Regions from separate parts of the Homo sapiens genome. Here regions 1, 2 and 3 are each linked to region 4. Evidence: fine-mapped expression QTL. A gene starts in region 4. Each other region holds a variant in brackets. All regions are shown on one strand. Distances are from middle to middle. Region 1 overlaps GAB2 (GRB2 associated binding protein 2). Region 2 overlaps USP35 (ubiquitin specific peptidase 35). Region 3 overlaps ALG8 (ALG8 alpha-1,3-glucosyltransferase). Region 4 holds the start of USP35 (ubiquitin specific peptidase 35).

What was found. PIP is the estimated chance that this variant, and not a neighbour inherited with it, causes the effect.
Region 1: its variant is fine-mapped to the expression of USP35 in whole blood (TOPMed, PIP 0.96).
Region 2: its variant is fine-mapped to the expression of USP35 in cerebellar hemisphere (GTEx, PIP above 0.99). The same link has a PIP of 0.9 or more in cerebellum, nucleus accumbens, prefrontal cortex, testis, thyroid and whole blood.
Region 3: its variant is fine-mapped to the expression of USP35 in whole blood (TOPMed, PIP above 0.99).

The regions. Positions count from the first base shown.
Region 1 is chr11:78,314,527-78,319,674 of GRCh38, reverse strand. All of the region lies in intron 1 of GAB2 (GRB2 associated binding protein 2), which reads left to right. It overlaps LOC105369402 (a long non-coding RNA gene), which reads right to left. Exons shown (of 3, transcript XR_950343.4): 2 at 4,770-4,866; 3 at 1-851. Among named protein-coding and RNA genes, the nearest start is that of GAB2, 100 kb to the left of the region's middle. The variant A/G (reference allele first, on the strand shown) is at 2,830.
Region 2 is chr11:78,211,645-78,216,766 of GRCh38, reverse strand. USP35 (ubiquitin specific peptidase 35) reads right to left here. Exons shown (of 11, transcript NM_020798.4): 11 at 1,535-3,121. The coding sequence ends at 2,954. It overlaps GAB2 (GRB2 associated binding protein 2), which reads left to right. Exons shown (of 10, transcript NM_080491.3): 10 at 1-1,474. Among named protein-coding and RNA genes, the nearest start is that of USP35, 25 kb to the right of the region's middle. The variant G/TTTATTTATTTAAG (reference allele first, on the strand shown) is at 2,086.
Region 3 is chr11:78,099,798-78,104,945 of GRCh38, reverse strand. ALG8 (ALG8 alpha-1,3-glucosyltransferase) reads left to right here. Exons shown (of 13, transcript NM_024079.5): 11 at 493-590; 12 at 894-966; 13 at 3,751-4,000. The coding sequence ends at 3,982. Among named protein-coding and RNA genes, the nearest start is that of NDUFC2-KCTD14, 23 kb to the right of the region's middle. RefSeq lists a silencer at 1-43. The variant C/A (reference allele first, on the strand shown) is at 2,912.
Region 4 is chr11:78,185,696-78,190,843 of GRCh38, reverse strand. It overlaps USP35 (ubiquitin specific peptidase 35), which reads right to left and starts at 1,925. Exons shown (of 11, transcript NM_020798.4): 1 at 1,687-1,925. KCTD21 (potassium channel tetramerization domain containing 21) reads left to right here and starts at 2,218. Exons shown (of 2, transcript NM_001029859.3): 1 at 2,218-2,271. RefSeq lists silencers at 1,572-1,731, 2,162-2,501.

The DNA.
Region 1 (5,148 bases), 130 kb before region 4:
TCTCTGCTAAGTATGATTAGTCATATAGTAAATTATTTTTATAGCAGATCTTGTTTAGGTTGTGAACATGGGTGAGAAATTCCAGTTTCTGTCATTATGTCTGGTTCTATCAAGAGCCATAGAGATGAATGTTACCAAGCCTAAGGGTAAGTTAGAGAGGAAAACATGGGAGAAAACTGTAAAGAACAGAAACTCTACCACTTTTTTCCCCAACTAGTACTGCAATATATATCTTCATACATACATCTTTTTCTTTCCTTTGAATTATTACCTTAAAGTCAGATGCCAGAAATGAGAATTATTGGGCACAAAGGGATGAACATTTTTAAGGCATTTGAAATACTGCCAGATTATTTTCCAAACACATAATACTAACAAATAGTTCAGAGCAACATGCAAGGGTGTCTGTTTTATCACACTACAGGGAATTGTCATGAAAATCTTTTAGCTGGTTTAATGGAGGAAAAAATGGAGGAAAAAAAATTCATTTTTAGTTAAGGTTTGGTGTTTTTCATCTGATTATTTATGCAGCTCCTTCTGAGGGTGCATCCAAACGCTCACAGCCTTGTTTCAGAGGCTGAGAGGCCTGCAACCTCAGCGGCCTCTGGGGCACAGCACCTCTGTTGTGCAGCAGCAGGGAGGGGCAGTGATGGAGGGAAAACATAACACAGACCACACCATTGTTAGGGGATGAGGTTGCTGGGATAATGCTGTGAGAAGGGATGAAAAGAACGATTCTCCATTCTTGATTGTTGTGATTTCCAGGGATGAGCCAACAGCTCCAGTGCGGGAAGGGATGGGTCTTTACTGCATCCAGATGCTCCTTTTTCCAGTGCTGCCTCCGATTATTTCTGGTGAGAAGGGGTGGTGGATAACATAGCAGCTGAAACAGATTAACTTTTATGCCAGTTTCCTCCCTTTAAGTGATTGCCCTGGACCTGGGGACATTCAGAATTCGTCAGAAACCGTTTAGAAATAAGAATGTGGTTCAAGGTCCCTGGTGTGCAAGAGCCAACCTTCTGGAGTTTGCGTACCATTCCTGCCTTTATCTGTGGGAGCTGCTTGAGGCAAAGGGATCTTTCTTTCCTCTCCTTCCCTACTGCCACTGCCGTTGTTCAGGCCCTTATCCTGTTTTGTCTGGGCTTCCTGTTTCCCTTAATCTATCCTCATCTATGCTGTTGCCAAAGTGATATTTCTACTATGCACACTGGATCCTATCCCTCTCCAGTTAAAACTGTCAGTGGTCCGCCACTGCCTTCAGGATGAAAGTCAAGCTCCTTTTCACAGCTTTTTTTTTTTTTTTTTGGCATTTAACAATCAGATCCCAAAATGTCTTTCCTGACTGGCTCCCACCGCTTCTCTGGACTGTTCCAGGACCCTGACTAGTGCATGCACTCTGTAAGGTGCTTGTGCTGGTCCCTCCTCCTGATAGCCCTTCTGCCTCTGTTCCACCAGATTCACTCCTGATCCCTCATCTCCCTCCTCAAAAAGAAGTCTCCCTCAATTATCAACTCTCTGATGGATTTTCCCTGGTAGGTAATCAGTTCTGTTCCTGTAACCCTCTAGTAGCAACTATATACAAGATTGTGATTTCTATTATTATTTTCCCCTAAATCAGGAATTATCTTCCTTTTGTATATTCATATTTGTGGATCCCCAGCCCTTAGTACAATATTTGACACATAATAAATGCTCCAGAATATCTTTTTCTTCCTTCCTGCCAGGTTGTTTGTAAGTTCTTTTACCTTCAATGTGTTCTTAGTTTTAGAGTTAAAAGGAAATGTAATGTAGTTTAATCTTCTTCTTCTTTTTCTTGTTTTTTAATGGTTGACAAAACCAAAGCCCAGAAAAGAAAAGAATTCACCCTGGGATGATCAGCCAGATATAATGGCAGGGCTGTTTAGGGCTGATCTCCTTAGGTAACTTAAAAAGAACCTTGAAACAAAAGATTGCATCAGGAGGAAAGGAAGGAGCAAAGATTCGTTGCCAAGTTCTTTGCTGAATGCTTAATATATGTTACTTTTTAAAAAAATTATTTCTTCTTTTGATTGTGATAAAATACACATAACATAAAGTTTACCATCATAATCATCTTTTTTTTTTTTTTTTTTTTTTTGAGACGGAGTCTCGCACTGTTGCCAGGCTGGAGTGCAGTGGCGCCATCTCAGCTCACTGCAACCTCCGCCTCCCAGGTTCAAGCGATTATCCCGATTCAGCCTCCCGAGTGGCTGGGACTACAGCTGCCCGCCACCACACCCAGCTAATTTTTGTATTTTTAGTAGAGATGGGGTATCACCATGTTGGCCAGAATGGTCTCAATCTCTTAACTTACGATCTGTCCACCTTGGCTCCCAAAGTGCTGGGATTACAGGCGTGAGCCACTGTGCCCGGCCCATCGTAATCACTTTTAAGTGTATAGTTCAGTGACATTAAATGCATTCATATTGCTGTGCAGCCATTACCACCATCCATCTCCAAAACTCCTTTCAGCTTCCCAAACTGAAACTATACCCATTAGACATTGATGCCCTATTCCTCCGGTGGCCTAATAACCACTGTTGTATTTTTTGTCTCTCTGAATCTGGCTACTCTAGGCTTGCCATGTAACTTTGTCATATAAGTGGAATCACATGGTATTTTCTAACTGCTTATTTCACTTAGCTTAATGCCCTTAAGGTTCATCCCTGCTGTAGCATGTGTCAGAATTTCCTTCCTTTTTAAGGCTGAATAGTATTCCATTGTATGCATGTACTGTGTTTTATATCTCCATTCATCCACCAGTGACATGTGGGTAGCTTCCACCTTTTGGCTCTTCTGACTAATGCTGCA[A/G]TGAACATAGGTGTAAAAATATTCCGTTTGTGTTCCTGCTTTCAGTTTTTTGGGGTCTGTATCCAAAAGTAGAATTACTGGATCATATGGTAATTCTATTTTCAATTTTTTGAGGAATTGCCTTACTCTCTTCTATAGCAGCTGCACTATTTTATATCCCCACCAACATTGCACAAGGGTTCCAGTTTCTCCATATTCTCACCAACACTTATTTCTATTTTTTAAAGTAGCCATATTAATAGGTGCAAGGTAGTATTTCATTGTTTTGATTTGCATTTCCCCAATGATTAGTGACATGAGCATCTTTTCATGTGCTTCTTGGTCATTTTGTATCCCTTCTTTGGAGAGATGTCTATTCAAGTCCTTTGTCAATTTTTAGTTAAGTTGTTTGTTTTTGTTGTTATTGTAGTTCTTTATATATTCTAGTTATTAACCCCTTATAATCCTGTACTAGTCAGTGTTCTCCAGAGGGACAGAACTAATAATATGTATATATGAAAGGGAGTTTATACATATTTCATAATATGTATATTATGAAAGTAAAGAATTGGCTCACACAGTTATAATGCAAAGTCCCACAATAGGCCATCTGGAAGCTGGGGAAGAGAGAAGCCGGTAGTGGCTCAGTTTGGGTCTGAAAGCCTCAAAACCAGGGAAAACAACAGTGCAGCCTTTAAGTCAGTCCCAAAGGCAGGACACCCACCCCCTGGCCCCCCGTGCAAGTCCCAGTGTCAGGCCAAAGAACCTGAAGTCTGATGTCCAAGGGCAGGAGGAGCGGGAGGAAGCATCCAATATGGCAGGGGGAGGGGGAGTGGGGAGAAGGAAGCCAGAAGCCTCAGCAAGCAAGCTTATTCCACCTTCTTCCGCTTGCTTTCTTCTGGCCATGCTGACAGGCAGTAGGATGGTGCCCAACCATATTAAGGGTGACTCTTCCTTTCTCAGTACACTGACTCAAATGTCAACCTCCTCTGGCAGCACCTTCACAGATAAACCCAGAAACAGTACTTCGCCAGCCATCTAGGCATCCTTCAATCCAATCAAGTTGACACCTAATATTAACCATCACAAATCCTTTACCAGATATATGATTTGCAAATATTTTCTTCCATTCAGTGGATTGTCTTTTCACTTGGTTGATTGTGTCCTTTGATTCACTAAAGTTTTAATTTTGATGTCCAATTTATCTATTTTTTGTTTTGCTACCTATACCTTTGGTGTCACATCCAAGAAAACATTGTCAAATCCATTGTCATGAAACATTTTTTCTATGTTTTCTTCTGAGAGGTTTATCATTTTCATTCTTATATTTAGGTCTTTGGTCCATTTTGAGTTAATTTTTGTATATGGTATAAGGGTCCAGCTGTTTTTTTACATGTGGATATCCAGTTTTCCCAGCACCATTTGCTGAAAAGTTCTGTTATTTCTTTTGTATTTGTGTGATAGTCCTAGGATGTGTTATAATTACCTTATAGATGAGAAAACAGAAGGTGAAATATTCCTGAGGATCCCCTAAAAGCAGGCTTCTTGCTATCCTTGGCAGTTCAAAGACATTAAAAAGGGGGGAAAGCCATTTTGAAATAATGCGAGAAGAAGAGGGGAATAGACTGAGAGGAAAAGCAAAACAAAATAAAATAAGATTGGGATAGACAGCCAGCCGTGAGCAGAACTTTGAAGTGTGTTTATAATTCACTCAGAGACCTCCTCCCCCCTGCCCTTTTACTCTCCTTCCTTCTCTTACTCTCTCAATTAGCTCCTTCAGTTTGCTGTCTCTTCTGAAACTCTTTGAAAGCTTTTCTACAGTCTGTGTCCAGCCTGTTTTCTGAGCTTTATCTGCTGTCTCCCTCGCTGCCACTGTGAAGCTGTAATGGAGTCATGTTAGTTCTCACTGCTCCCATAGCAAGCCCTGCCTTTACAGACCACGTTCATTTTATTCACTTTACCTTTAATGTGCCATGGTCTTTCTCCAAGGCCTCTTGACGGTGGTGGCACCTCTTCACCTCTGCGTCCCAGTAGCATTGTGGCACAGAGGTGGCTGTTCTGTAAATGTGTCAAAAAGATGACTAAACCGACAGTTTTTGTTCCTTTGCATAACCATTCCACATATGCAATATAGTCTTACCTTCCGGGATTTAAAGTAAGCATGTGACCTGGTCTCTGTCCACCAGTGATTGTAATCTAGCTGGGAGAAAGCAAGGTACTTCTATATACACTTGACACTTTAATATTCTGTATAACATGTTATACTTGTAACCTTCAGTGAATGACAGGGAAGACTTGTTTTATCTCCATTATATTAAGATACTAAAGCACAGCAAAGTT
Region 2 (5,122 bases), 26 kb before region 4:
CAAGTGGGCCCAGACTATTGCAGCCTCCCATAAACATGTGAGCATGTTCTGAGTGTGCCATGATGTGAGTGGACCTGGCTGGAATCTTCGGAGAGCGACTGAGGTGTTCAAATCGAATCTCCCAGGAGGCTTCCTTCCAGCCCCCTATTCTGGTAACTACCAGGAGGCTTCCTTCCAGCCCCCTATTCTGGTAACTACCAAAATCCCTCGGGTGCAAGTGTAGGGGTAGAGATGGAAGGATGAGAGGTGAAATTGACCTTTTGAAAGCAAAGCTCTGGCTCACAGGCCCCAAACTACCAGCCGTATCTAGCATATCCCCACCCTCCACCCACTACCTCCTCCAACAAAGGAGTCAACTCAGTTGAAAAAACTGGTCCTTTGGCCTATCCATGGGTCAAAGTCCACCTCTCCTGGGGGCCTGGAGAGGACTGAGCCTACGGAAAGGGGATACCTTCCCACTCAGCACTGCTTCACACAGGCCCCCTGCCTGGGGCTCTCCAAGGAGCCTTCTTCACCCACTTCCAGCTCCACTTCTGCAAGGTTAAGTCAAGTGAGAACGATGAGAAATAGGGAGATGGTGTCTCCTTAAGTCCTTGATCTGCCTGTCTGTGGAATGGGAGGTTGGATTAGCTGCGCTGAGGTCCCATCCACAGCTGGTGCTCAGCTGCTTGAAGGGGAGACTCCCTCCTCTGTAACTTCTTTCTGGGGGATTGGGGTGGGCAGTACCTATCCCCAGTCCCCTCCTAGCTTGACTTTAGTGGTTTCCAATGTAGAAGTTAACAAAGTATGCCCCATTCCTGTGACAAAAGCACAACCATTCTGAAGTTACTGGAGCATGGGCTCAGCTCATCCTCCCTCTGGCCCCTTCTCCCATGGGGACATCTCGGCCCAGCACCCCTATCCCATTTCCAGAGTTCTTCCTTCCCCATCTGGGCCTTCATAAAATGCAGGGGAAGCCAGACTGGTCTCAGGAGCGCTAAAGCCCTTCCGTGGGGGGTCGTCTTTCTGGGACTAGCCCTGCTGTTTAGGACCTGGGACCACAATGGGGTACCTGCCGAGGGGGTCCCCAAGAGATCCAGGCTGTCATGTGATTTATGGTGGCATGTGTTGTGTATTTGTTGGCTACTTGTGTCTTGAAATCTAGAATTATTTCACGCAGAATTGTCACTGTTTGTCAGGAAGAGAAAATGGGCTAGTGGAAGCCCAGTCTTGAGTTCTTGTCTTGTTACCATTTAAAATTGACATTTAATTTTCAAATCACTGTTGGTGCCTAATCACTTAAGTTATTAATTTATTCTGTTGTATTCTTTTTTTTAAATTGTAACATATTTATCCGGTGGGTGGGACAGGAGTGTGTTCAAGTGGGTCATGTTTTTGCTGTGGTGACACATGGTACAGGCTTGGAGCTTGCAGGTCCCTTTCTACTGTGGTGTTGGAGCAGGACAATAAAGTCCACTAGAAATGCACCCCAGAACCAGCTGCCGTGTCCATCTTGTCTTGAGGGGCTTGGTGGTGGAACCCGTTCTCACTCCAGTCTGTTCCAATTTTTGCTTTATTTGGAAATAATTGGGTATTTTTCTTGGCTGTGAATAAGAACAAATGCTCTCTACCTCAGCGTCTGTTGTAAAGTGGAAATCATACTAGCATTTACCCATCCAGCTTTCTTAGGCGTCTAGAGATGGGTTCTGGGCGTGTCTGTCTGCTGCTTTCACAGGTCACTTAGATGTGACATCTTGAGGGTCTGTGACATTGGGCCCAAACTCCACACCACCATCACAGCAGGCAGCCCCTGGGGAAGGAGGTAGGTAAAGGCTTGAGAGCTGCCTCCCAGGTGCATCCTCTCCACGGGCAGCATCACCCAGCCCTCAGTAAGGTAAGTAAGTCAGTCAGTCCACACGTTTACTTACACCCCACTTCAGTAGATTCAGTAGAGGGCTCTTGGCTCCCTGTGGCATCTCACACGTCACTGGGGGGCAGGCTGAGTCCTGGCCTCCCCAGACCCCGTGAGCAAAACCCAGTGGCCATCACAGCCCCTGAGTCCAAGGAAGAACAATCTCTTGCTTAGGCTTACTTTTATTTATTTAT[G/TTTATTTATTTAAG]AACATGGGTGTCTGTCTTGTCTTCGGTTAGAAGTTAGAAGGGGGCTACAGCAGTGTCAGGGCACTTCACCCAACCTGCAGGTGGCTGCTGTTGCAGCTACAAAGGCCAACTGCTCAGAGGAGCCCACAGGCTTCCTAAGAGCCCACACTTCACAAGGAACATGAACACCTTTGCAGTAAAATCAGGACTCTAACCACAAGGGGGATACAAGTGGTGGCTTCTCAGGCCCTGAGGCAGGCGTGGAGGGGCTGTGGGGGCAAAGGCCTCCTGCTGTGAGAAGCTAGCCCCCCGCCCCCCCCCCCAAAACCATGCAGTGGCGCTTGGTAAGGGGGCAGGTCTCGGTCTCTGTTCTTCTCAGAAAGGTACAGACAGTGCAGGTACCCCCCACCCCCATATGAGAAACAAACAAACAGGACAGCCAGAGGAGACACTGCCCCCCCCACCCCTTTGTGCAAGGCTTGGATCCTGCTGTGCTTTATACCGTACAGCAGTCGGAAGGAAAATAGTACTTGATGTCAAAACATTGGAGCTGAGGTCTAGCCTGTTTCCTGAACATCATCAGATCTTCCCGCATGGGGAGCCTGCTAGGGAAGGAGGGGGAGGCAAAGACCCGTGTGTGCCCATCTCGGCTGCTTCAAGTTAACCAGGACACTTGGGTGTAAAGTTTTAATGGGACTGATCCCCAATGAAAGGGACTTAGGTCTTACTTCCATATCTGAGAGAATCTCTGTGTACCCTTCATCAGGCTGAGGACTAAGGTGCCATGAGCTGTACCATCCTTCCTCTTGGTAGGGCCTGCCTCCACAGCTTCCCTCAGGCCCTACCTGGCTCCTGGAGGGAAGGGGTCAGGTTGGCAGCAGGTTCACATTAGAAGACCAGTCTGTGGAAGTCACCACCATTGCCACCTGCAGGATTGCAGCCCCCTGGAGAGCCTTCATCCTCATCCTTGTCTTCATCAAAGCCCCTCCCCCAGTGCGGAGATGTGGGGAGTGCAGAGATGTAGGCCGCCCTGCTCCGGGCCTCCTTCTCCTGCTCCTGGGAACACAGATGAGAGGAGACTTAGACTTAGAATTCACACCCTGAAGCCAGAGTGAGTCTACCCAGCACAACACCTTTCAATGTTTCCTCTAGGTCCCCAGGGCCTGGACACACAGAGACATTGCAGCTCAGTGGCAGGATATCCGGGGTGGACACCTTCAAAAGACTTCAAAAGACCCCCTCCTCTCAATAAAAACTCTAGTCCCTGAGCCAGCTGATACTAGGGTGTGACTGACTAGCTGACAAGGGCCTAATGTGGTACCGAGAGGTCTGAGGACTTCGAGGGTCATATCACACCACACGGGAACCTGTCCGCAGGCCTCATGATCACGAGGAATGGGCTCTGCCTATGAGAAAGCCCATCCTCCTGCTACCAGGACGTCAGCCTCATGGCGATCCTTACCCGCCACCCTGCCTCCATCTGGACAGCATGGCAGAAGCTGTCCCTGAGAGCCTGACTCAGCCTCAGGCCCCTCCCTGGGCTGCTGCTGGTAAAACAGCACATAGGCTGTGTCCTTGGGGAAGAAGGAGTTGATGTTGGTGACACCCGGTCTGGTGTCCCCACACCAGTTGCTGTATTCCCCCGCACAAAACACAAACTCCAGGCACTGGCACCCATCCCACTGGTCAAAGCCCATGCTGTTCCAGCTGCTCAGTATGCCAGTGCCACCCTTGACTCTAGGGAGTCACACAGGAGGCTCACGTGGGTAGTGGGACCCCCTCCCCCCACACCCGAAGCATCCTCCTCCCCCTCAGACTCAACTGGTCCCTGTACTCCTCCTTCAGCACACTTATTAACTGCATTAATGGGGTTTTCTAGATGATACAGAATCATGTCATTATCTCATCCCAGGAGCTTCTTAAGCTGTTAAGCAACTTCAGCAACTCTCAAGATGATACATACAAAAACCAATGTGCAAAAATTGCTAGCATTCCTATACACCAACAAGAAGCAGGGAGCCAAATCATGAACAAACTCCCATTCACAACTGCTACAAACAGAATAAAATACCTAGGAATACAGCTAACAAGGGAAGTGAAGGAGAGGACACAAATGGAAAAACATTCCATGCTCACAGATAGATAGGAAGACTCAATAGCATGAAAATGGCCATACTGCCCAATGTAATTAACAGATTCAATGCTATTCCCGTTAAACTACCATTCACATTCACAGAATTAGAAAAAACTATTTTAAAATTCATACGGAGCCAAAAAGTCCATATAGCCAAGACCATCCTAAGCAAAAAGAACAAAAGTGGAAGCCTAATGCCTACCTGACTTCAAACTATGCTGTTTTGCTTACTGTAGCCTTGTAGTATAGTACTGGTATAAAAACAGACACATAGACCAATGGAACAGAATAGAGAACTCACTCAGAAATAAGACTCCACACCTACAACCATCTTCAACAAACCTGACAAAAACAAGCAATGGGTAAAAGATTCCCTGTTTAATAAATGTTGCTGGAAGAACTGGCTAGCCATAGGCAGAATGTTGACATTCGACCCCCTCCTTATACCTTATACAAAAAATTCACTCGATGGATTAAAGACTTAAATGTAAAACCCAAAGGTATTAAACCCCTAGAAGAAAATCTAGGAAATACCATTCAGGACATAGGCATAGGCAAAGATTTAATGATGGAAACATCAAAAGCAATTGCAACAAAAGCAAACAATGACAAATGGGATCCACTTAAACTAAAGAGCTTATGCGGAGTACAAGGAACTATCATCAGAGTAGACACAACCTACAGAATGAAAAAAAATTTTTGCAAACTACCCATCTGACCTAAGTCCGATATCCAGAGTCTACAAGGAACTTAAATGTCCAAGAAAAAAACAACCCCATTAAAAAGTGGGCAAAGGACATGAACAGACACTTCTCAAAAGACATTCATTCATGTGGCCAACAAACGTACGAAAGAAAAATTCAACATCACTGACCATTAGAGAAATCAAAACCACAATGAGATACCATCTCACGCAAGCCAGA
Region 3 (5,148 bases), 86 kb after region 4:
GTTGCCCAGGCTGGAGTGCAGTGGCGCGATCTCGGCTCACTGCATCCTCTGCCTCCCAGGTTCAAGCAATTCTCCTGCCTCAGCCTCCTGAGTAGCTGGGATTACAAGCACCCGCCACCATGCCCAGCTAATTTTTGTATTTTTAGCAGAGACAGGGTTTCACCATGTTGGCCAGGCTGCTCTTGAATTCCTGACCTCAGGTGATCCTCCCGCCTCGGCCTCCCAAAGTGCTGGGATTAAAGGCATGAGCCACTGTCCCCGGCCAGAAGCAAGATTCTTTTACGATACCCCTGATTCAGTTTGATACATGCTATTGATTGCTTAAAATTTCCTACTAAAAAATTAATATTCTCAACTAAATTGAACTTGTGCCAAAATCAGCATGTTCTTCTATGCCTCAGCCAGTTCTAATGTAATAGGAGATGCAGTTTATTTAAGCTATTTGCAAGTGTAATAACAGTTGTTGTTTTAAGAAATTATTTTTATTTTTAGCCTTTTGTCTGTGGGAAAAGCAGGAGACGCTTCGATTTTTCTGATTCTGACCACAACAGGACATTATTCCCTCTTTCCTCTGCTCTTCACTGCACCAGGTAAACAGCGTCTTCTGAGAAAAATATATTTGACTATCACAACCTTTTCATCGAGGCCCACAGATTAATACATCTAATTTAAACAACTCTAAAATCTCTTGGATAGAGATCATTCATCCTCTTAAATAAAACCTCCAATTTCCTGTAATTCTCAGCATCTCTAGATGTCACAAAAATGTAAAATTAAACTTAAAAAGTATTATTAGCACTATATAGCTGTGTCAGTGTGCTTATATTACTTTCAGCATCATAAGTCTTTCTGTCATCAGCTAAATTATCTTTTTTTTTCTATTCTTTTAACAGAACTTCCCATTAAAATCTTACTCATGTTACTATTCACCATATATAGTATTTCGTCACTGAAGACTTTATTCAGGTAATCAAAAAAATGTTTAAAATTATACTTACTCTTGTGAAATGTTTACACCTAAGTGGTCAAATAAGCTCTTTAAATTTTATTTTTAAGTTATAACAGTAATATGACAACATTACAAAAAAAATTGGTAAATAGAGGGAGAAATCACTCAATCCCATCACTCAGTCGAGACAACATAGTTTGTGTCTTTAGTTTGGGGGAGTATTTGAGGAGGACTACTTAAATTAAAATCCTATATGAAAACTCAAAAACTGAATGTAAAATATGCTTTATGAATAAAACTATTAAATACAGATAGATATGGAAAAAACTAAAAGATACTATGTACAAATTTTTTTTGTTCGTTTTTTTGAGACGGAGTTTTGCTCTTGTTGCCCAGGCTGGAGGGCAATGGCGTGATCTCGGCTCACCACACCCTCCGCCTACCGGGTTCAAGCTATTCTCCTGCCTCAGCCTCCCAAGTTACTGGGATTACAGGCATGCGCCACCATGCCCAGCTAATTTTTTTTTTTTTGGAGACGGAGTTTCACTCTTGTCGCCCAGGCTGGAGTGCAGTGGCGCGATCTCCACTCACTGCAACTTCCGCCTCCTGGGTTCAAGCGATTCTCCAGCCTCAGCCTCCTGAGTAGCTGAGATTATAGGTATGCATCACTACCACACCTGGCTAATTTTTTATATTTTTAGTAGAGGTGGGGTTTCACCATGTTGGCCAGGCTGCTCTCGAGCTCCTGACGTCAGGTGATCCACTTACCTTGGCCTCCCATAGTGCTGGAAGTACAGGCGTGAGCTGCTGTGCCCGGCTAATTTTGTATTTTTATTAGAGATGGGGTTTCTCTGTGTTGGTCAGGCTGGTCTTGAACTCCCAACCTCAGGTGATCCACCCACCTCGGCCTCCCAAAGTGCTGGGATTACAGGCGTTGAGCCACCGCACCCAACTATGTACAAATTTTACTACAGAATTATAGATGGAAACTTTTTCTCTTCTAAACTGTATGTAATGTTAACTATAATTTTTTTTTTTTTTTTTTGAGACGGAGTTTCACCCTTGTTGCCCAGGCTGGAGTGCAATGGCACGATCTCAGCTAACTGAAACCTCCGCCTCCCAGGTTCAAGCGATTCTCCTGCCTCAGCCTCCCTAGCAGCTAGGATTACAAGCATGCGCCACCACACCCAGCTGATTTTGTATTTTTAGTAGAGATGGGTTTCTCCATGTTGGTCAGGCTGGTCTCAAACTCCTGACCTCAGGTGATCCACCGTCCTTGGCCTCCCAAAGTGCTGGCATTACAGGTGTGAGCCACCATGCCCGGCCAACTGTAATTTTTTAAAGCTTGCTTATGGTTCATAACTGTGTCCATAAAAACTTATATAATTAACTATGTTAAAATGCAGTTATAGCCATGTGACCCAGCAATTCCACCCCTATACCCAAAAGAATGGAAACAGGGACTCAACAGATACTTGTACATCAGTATTCATTGTAGCATTATTCATACTAGCTAAAAGATGGAAACAACCCAATGTCCATCAACAAATACATGATAAAGTGTGATATATACATATAGTGGATTATTCAGCCAAAGAAAAGAATGAAGTTCCAATACATGCTACATGAATGAATCTTGAAAACATGCTAAGTGAAAGAAACGAGAGAATAGAACAAATATCATATCGTTCCACTGATAGGAAATTCTAGAATAAACAAACATAGAGACAGAAAGTAGATTAGAGGTTGAGGGAACAGGGGGATGGGAAGTTATTGTTAATGGTTCCAGAGTTTCTGTTTGGGGTCACGAAAATATTTTGAAGGTGGATAGTGGCGATGGGCGCATATTATTGATCTACTTAATACCATCAAACTGTATACTTAAAAATGGTTAAACAAATAGCAAATTTCATGTTATATATATTTTACCAAAATAAAAAATATTTTAAAAATCTGGTGAAA[C/A]CTTGTCTCTATAGAAAATACAAAAATTAGCTGGGCATGGTGGCAGGCGCCTGTAATCCCAGCTACTTGGGAGGCTGAGGCAAGAGAATCGCTTGAACCCAGGAGGTGGAGGTTGCAGTAAGCTGAGATTGCACCACTGCACTCCAGTCTGGGTGACAGAGCAACGCTCCATCTCAAAAAGAAAATTTTTTTTAAATCTTCAATTCTATATTGTTTCTCATGTTCTTATTCCAATGTCACAGCACCCAACCCCTTTACCTCTTTCAAATGCAGAACTAATTCTCTCTGAGCAGCTTGAGCTAAATAACAGCATAGGTCAATGGTGGAGTAAATTTAGATTGTTGAGATAATATAACGTATATAATTATCATTTTTTTCTAAATGTGAAACTTATTTTTTATTTTTATTTATTTTTTGAGACAGAGTCTCACTCTGTCGCCCAGGCTAGAGTGCAGTGGTGCCATATCGACTCACTGCAACCCAGTTAAAGCAGTTCTCCTGCCTCAGCCTCCCAAGTAGCTGGAATTACAGGCCTGTGCCACCCTGGTCGGCTAATTTTTGTATTTTTAGTAGAGATGGGGTTTCTCCATGTTGGCCAGGTTAGTCTAGAACTCCTGACCTCAGGTGATCCACCTGCCTTGGCCTCCCAAAGTGCTGGGATTACAGGCATGAGCCTCTGCACTTGGCCCTAAATGTGAAATTTAATATACTCTTGACTCTGGCCTTGGCTATAATAATTGACAGCAAGACAGTGCAGATGGGGAAGCTTTAGCTAGGAAATGTTTGCTAAACCAGGATGACTCATCTAAAATCAGACTTTTCTCTCTTTTTTCCTTCAGAAAAGAAAAACCTCTTTTTAATTGGATGGAAACTTTCTACCTGCTTGGCCTGGGGCCTCTGGAAGTCTGCTGTGAATTTGTATTCCCTTTCACCTCCTGGAAGGTGAAGTACCCCTTCATCCCTTTGTTACTAACCTCAGTGTATTGTGCAGTAGGCATCACATATGCTTGGTTCAAACTGTATGTTTCAGTATTGATTGACTCTGCTATTGGCAAGACAAAGAAACAATGAATAAAGGAACTGCTTAGATATGTGCCAAGCAATTATTTCATGGGAAATTAACCAGAACTTGAAGAAAGTTGCCAGTGGCATCAGCCATTTGTTTCAGTAGAACTGTTCAGAGCACCATTCTTCCACACTTGGTCTTGCCCAGCCTAGCAACCGGATTGTCACCATGGTGAGAAGCCACTGGCCCTCCATAAGCACTGAAACACATCTGAAAAAAACTCACCTTTCCCTATTAAAATTGTCTGAGATCGTTCAGACTGCTGTGCTTGCTCAAGCCAAACAGGGAATCTGATTAACCGCATAATTATTTGTAGCCTATGCTAACCATTGTGAGGATATAAAGCATAATTAGAATCCTGTGCTAAGGAAATATAAATGAAATGCTATTTTGTATGCACAAAAAAACTTCTGGATCGTTACCAGCTCCTACATTTTCCTCTTGGCGTGTACACAGGCAGATGGTGTACTGTCCCCATTCTGTACACCTTGTTCGAGATTTTTTTTGTTTGAAATTATACAGTGACAATACTCACAAAGCCAAGGGGAGTAGTTAAGGTACTGGTTTGGCCAGGCAGCAGAAACTACAAACCACAGCTACTTTACATTGATTTAAGGATATCTCGTGCAGCTCATTTATTCTAACAGCAAGCACTGCAGTTTTTATAAGGCAGCCACTTAAACCTTTCATCATGCGCAGGAACTGAAGTGATTTTTGCAGTCTGGTTCTTATCCTTTCCCTTCCTTAAGAGTACTTCATATACGCTTTTTATCCAGGACCCCAATTTGTGTAATATCTGCCACACATTCAGATTCAGCCAACGTTTATCTAGTCAACAGTAGGAACTTTCACACATTTTATTTTATTTCTATTTTTTTTCAGCCCTCAGGCAGAATTCATACATTTTATTTACCCATTATCCCCTAAGATCAGAGAGACTCCAAGGTCAATGGCATTCTGAGATGGAATCCAGTTATTCCATCTCTTCCGTCTACTCCATTTTCTAAGACTTCTTTTTGGTCTGTTATTGCAGAGACAAAGATGGGGATCTTGCCAAAGGGGGAGGGAAGCGTAGCGCCTCTAACCTGTTTTCCTGCCCACAGACTCTCCTCCACCCTGTGTTCCAGCTGGCCTAACAACTTCAAACTCCCCGTGTGCCATGCTGTCTTGT
Region 4 (5,148 bases):
TGACTGCTACTTTGCACAATGTCCCCTCTACTGAAAAAGGGCTTTTCCCTCTTCTCTCCTGGAAAATTCTGACTCACCCTTCAATGCCCAGCTCACATGCCCTCTCCTCTGGGAAGCCTTTCCTTTTCCCTCCACAATTCAAGTGTCTAAAGTTCTGGCCTCCAAGGCCCTCTTAGCTATTCTCATCCCTCTGCAGCATAACTGGAATCCATGTCTCTGTCTCCCACCAGGCTGGGACCTCCCTTGGCAGAGGTCCAATCCCCGTCTCTGAGCCCAGTGCCCAGTACAGAACCAAGGACTGAGGTGTCCGTGAAGGTGCGTCAAGCAACTCATGAGAGACATGTGACAGCAAGATGAGAGAAAACCAAAGATGTAACCACAAAAGTACCTTCCAGAAACTGGCCTAACCTTTGGTCCAGTCACCACCCCCTCCTTTGCCCAGGCCTGGTCTTGCATATCAAAAACCCTGAAAATCTTAAACATCAGTCAAGAAAGCCCCTACAGAGGTCACTGGACTGGACTGAGGCTTTAGCCATTCTAGAAATTGTTCAAACAACCAAAGCAAAAGAAAAAGCACAAAACAAAAACAAAACAAAACAAAACAAAAATCTGTTCCTGGTTAGCCTTCAGGTCAAAAGCTCACAGAATCTCCTAGGACCTGAGAAGAAGGCTTCATGGTGTTACTCAACCTCTCCCTGCTCCAGGTCAGAGCAGCCCCTCCCAGCCTCTGCTCAGCACCTAAGAGCTGAGGAGCACATTTCCTCCCCTCTCTGACCCTCGAAGCCAGCCTCCCTCCTTTGACTCCCCTGGGAGCCAGAGCTTCCTTGGGGGTACCAGGCTGCCCCTCCCGACACCAGGTGGTGCCCTCCATCTCTGGCCCCTCAGGTGTCTGAATGGCAGCATCTCTCTAGGTATTTTTTAACTGAACTTCTACCCAAGGCAACCCTGGGAAGAAGTGCTTCACCCTACTCCGGGAGGCCCATGTCTGGGCCACCAAACTGTCTCCTGGAAAGAAAAAGAAAAAAGGGTTTCACTGGTAAAAAGCAGCTGCTCTTCCTCAAAGGATAAGGAGGAGAGAGAAGGGAAGAAAGCAGGAGCAGCTATTCCTCCTCAGGAACCCACCACACACACCTATCCCTGCGGGGCCACCCCTCACAAACCTGTGAGGGCCGCACTCCACCCCAAGCTTTCTGGAAGGAAGGGCACCAAGCTGACACATCAGGGTCTCCGGTTTGCAAGGGCCAGGGCCGTAAGAGGGGGTTGGGGAGGGTATCCCAGGGCCCAGCACACTGAGAATAGGAAAAGCCCATTCCAAGCAATGGTGGCCTCGGGCCCCCCAGTTTGTGCCACCTCCCTCCCTCCAGTGCACCCGCGCCCAGCCCACGCTTGAGCTGGAGGGCCCCACGAAAAGCCAGCAAGCGAATGTACTAGGTACTGGGTGCGAATGCCCTCTTACCTGAAAGGGGAGGGAGCAGGATCACTTCGACATACAATTGATGAAGGGAGGGGATTAATGCCCAGAGAGGAATAGCTACTCGCCCAAGGTCACACAGTGAGGCCCAGGAGGCCCAGGATGCACCCAGATCTCCCGACTCCCAGCCCTGGGCTCGCAAGTCCAGGGTTCTCGAAAGGCCAGGGTGCAGACACCGCCCCCCAAAGACAGTCACACGCCCCCAACCCCCTTACCTCCCGGACCCCGGTGGGCCAGAGCCGGCTGCTGGGCGGGGCGCTCAGGCCGGGCAGGACGAGGCTGGGCCCGGCTAGGTCAGGGCTGGTCCTCTGCTCCCCCCAGGGTGGGGACGCCCTCAGCCAGGTCCCAGACGGAAGAGATGCTGCTTCCACTGCAAAATCCAGTCTTCCCACCCCGCCTGGCACAAGCCTCTATGTATCCAGGAAGCCCGACTCTGCGGCGCGGCCCCGGGGCTGCGGGATGAAGCATGGGGAGGGGCGAGGTGCGTGAAATGGGGCGGAGCCGGAGCGGGGGCCACCCCGCGAGCTGCCACTCTGACCGCGTCCCCTTTAAGGCCAGCCGGCCGGACACCGGCGGGGACGAGGCGGGGCGCAGAGCAACTCGCTGCAATGCCTCCTGGGAGATGGAGTTCGCTCTCGACGCGCCGAGCTGCGAGGAGCCCAGAGAGAACTACCAGTCCCGGAAGGCAGCGCACAGACCCCGGACCGCCACGCCCCTGGGCTGGGCTCCTACCCTCCGCCCCCCTCGCAAAGCTGCGCTGGCCGCTCGCGGAGGGAGAGGCTGCAGAGCGAGGGCAGGAGGTGGGTGCGGCACGGCCGGGGTCGCGGGGCTCGGGGACTACCGGCGAGGGTACGTGGGCCCACTGAGCACCTGTCTTACCATGAGACTAATCTATCCCAGCCTCGCCATTCCCATCTGTGAAATGGGGATGGCATCGCCTGTGGTGCGGGGGAGGGGGCGCGTTTCGGAGCGAGGTGAGCCGAAGTGGGCAGAGCTCTTAGAGGGGCGGGGCTGTTGGGAGAGCAAGGGCGGATGGTGATAGTCGGAAAAGCCCGGATAATGAGGGTCGGGACTGTGGGAGGAGTCCTTGGTGGGTGGGGCAAGGAGAGGCGGGATCTCTAGGTGGGGGTGGGGCACTTGTCAGGTCGGAGTGGGGGCTGTAGGGCTGGGGAGTGGGTGCGGAACAAGCCGATGAGGCCAGCCTGGGTGAGATTGGGGAAGGAAGGGCGGAGACACAGATGACAGGGAACTTGCCCCGCTCTGGAGAGCCCTGGGCCGGCCGCGCTGTGGCGGCGTGGGCAAAAGCCTGTGATGCATAGAACACCTCCCTTTACTGACTGGAAATAAAGAGTCCATCCCCGAGTTCAGTGCGGCACACCAGTGATCTCATTGACCTCCCACGCCCTGAAAAGTAGAGGCGTCACTATAGCGGTTGACAGGTGAGGAATGTGAGGCTCAGAAAAGCGAAGGGACTTGCCTAAAACCACTCAGGACTCCTTACTTCAAAGACCTTGCTTTTCTCCCTGCACTCGGGGAGGCAGAGGTTTAGCTTGGCGTGGGAGGCAGGAAAGAAAAGTTTTGATGCCCCGACCTTCGCAAATTGTCTGGCAGGACCAGTCCCCCCAACCCTTCCGAATGACAGCCTGTAAGGCAGCCCTCCTATAGTACTGTGAGGATGAAATGAGATGGATTTGAAAGCACGGTGTTTATAAATTACTGTTTGGAGGAGACATAGGAAGAGAGCGGTTTGAAATGGGGTGCTGGTGCCGGAGGAAAAGCACAAGGTGAAGCGTGAGAGTGAGCCGAGAAGGTGAAGGAAAGTTCTGGAAGGGGCTGGGGGATGGTAGTGGTTGTTGGAGGTCTACGCCAGATGAAAGAATACCTTGCCGTGCCAGATTCCGTGGTCTCCTTCTTCCAGCCCACCTTTCTCTCCTCCTGCCTTTTGCGCAGCTCATTCTGGGGTCCCTGTGTCTAGGAAGCACCTTTTCTCTCCTCCCTATGGGTTGTGATGGTAATAGAGCAGCCTTCGGATTTCTTAGAGATATGGACTGGGCAAGACAGAATTATAGACGCAGCTCTTTGATGTGGGGTGGTCAGGAAGAGGAGGTGAAGAAAGGGTAGTCGTCCTAGGGGCTTCAAGGCAAAGAGTCCTTTCTCCGGTGGGGTAAGGTGGGGAAGTCTCCCACTTACTGGAAAACACAGTACTCACTCTGAGCATTGTCTTTTTTGAAATTTACCCAGCCACGTGCTGTCCATTCCCTTACGCAGTGGAAACTCTCCTTGCATTTACTCCCAAGTAATCACCTCGGCCTTGTCACATCCCTTTAGATTCCAGATTGAAAATTGAACAGAGCATTTCAAAATTAAAAAGTTTTGAAAATCCAGGTGGGGAAAATGGATCTGACTAAACAGGAGAGAAATTTCTTCCTCTTCCCCTATTCTACGTGCTTCTGTGGATATAGAAAGGGGCACCCCCAGCCCCAGCAAGGGAGCCAGGCATCCATCTACTTAAGTAAAGTTGGCTGTGGTAAGGGGTTAGACTAAAATTCTCCGCAGATGCAGAGGAGAAGGAATGAATTCCAGCTGAGAGACCTGGCCGATGCATGGGATTTGTCTTCAAGGTCCAGGCAGAGGGGATGGCAGATGCCAAATTGCAGAAGTCGAAGAGGGCCCAGTATGGTTGGTCTGTAAAGTAGGTATATAATAGTATCTACTTAATCTGTGAGATTGAAAGAGATTAACATGTATAGAGTGCCTAGCACGGTAGTAACTGCTCAATAAACGTTAGCCATTATTATTGCCGTTGTAGTGTTTGTTGTTGTTATGATCATCATCATCTGCCCAGGAACGTGCCCAGGGCTGCACAGCTAGTAAGTGGCAGGGGATGATTCAAATGCAAACCCAGGTAATGCCGAATACCATGCATGGTCTGCCCCTACCCCACACAGCCTCTCCAGTTCTTTTCTTTTTTTTTTTTTTTTTTTTTTTTTTTTTTTTTTTTGAGACAGGGTCTTACTCTGTTGCCCAAGCTGGAGTGCAGTGGCGTGATCTCGGCTTGCTGCAGCCTGACCTCCCAGGCTCAAGCGATCCTCCTACCTCAGCCTGTGCAGCTGGGACTGCAAGCACGTGTTACCATGCCCAGCTAATTTTTTTTTTTCTCTATAGAAACGAGGTCTCATTATGTTGTCCAGGTGGTCTCAAACTCCTGAACTCAAGCGATCCTCCCACCTGGGCCTTCCAAGTGCTGGGATTACAGGCATGAGCCACTGAGCCTGGCCTGTCTCCAGTTCTTTCTGCCCATCCTTGACATTTCTGAGGCCCAGGAGTGGCCTCTCTTTGTCAACATTCACAGTGAGTCATGACAGGAGTTTCTTTCCTGCCGAGTTACAGAGATTCTGGGTTCATGATGAGGCAGGAAAAACAAGGCCTGAACAGCCATCTTCTTCCAGGCAGAATCACAGCACAGAAGATAGGCAGACCTGGCCGGGCGCGGTGGCTCACGCCTGTAATCCCAGCACTTTGGGAGGCTGAGGTGGGTGGATCATTTGAGGTCAGGAGCTTGAGACCAGCCTGGCCAACGTGGTGAAACCCCGTCTCTACTAAAAATACAAAAATTAGCCGGGCATGGTGGCACGCACCTGAAATCCCAGCTACTCAGGAGGCTGAGGCAGGAGAAT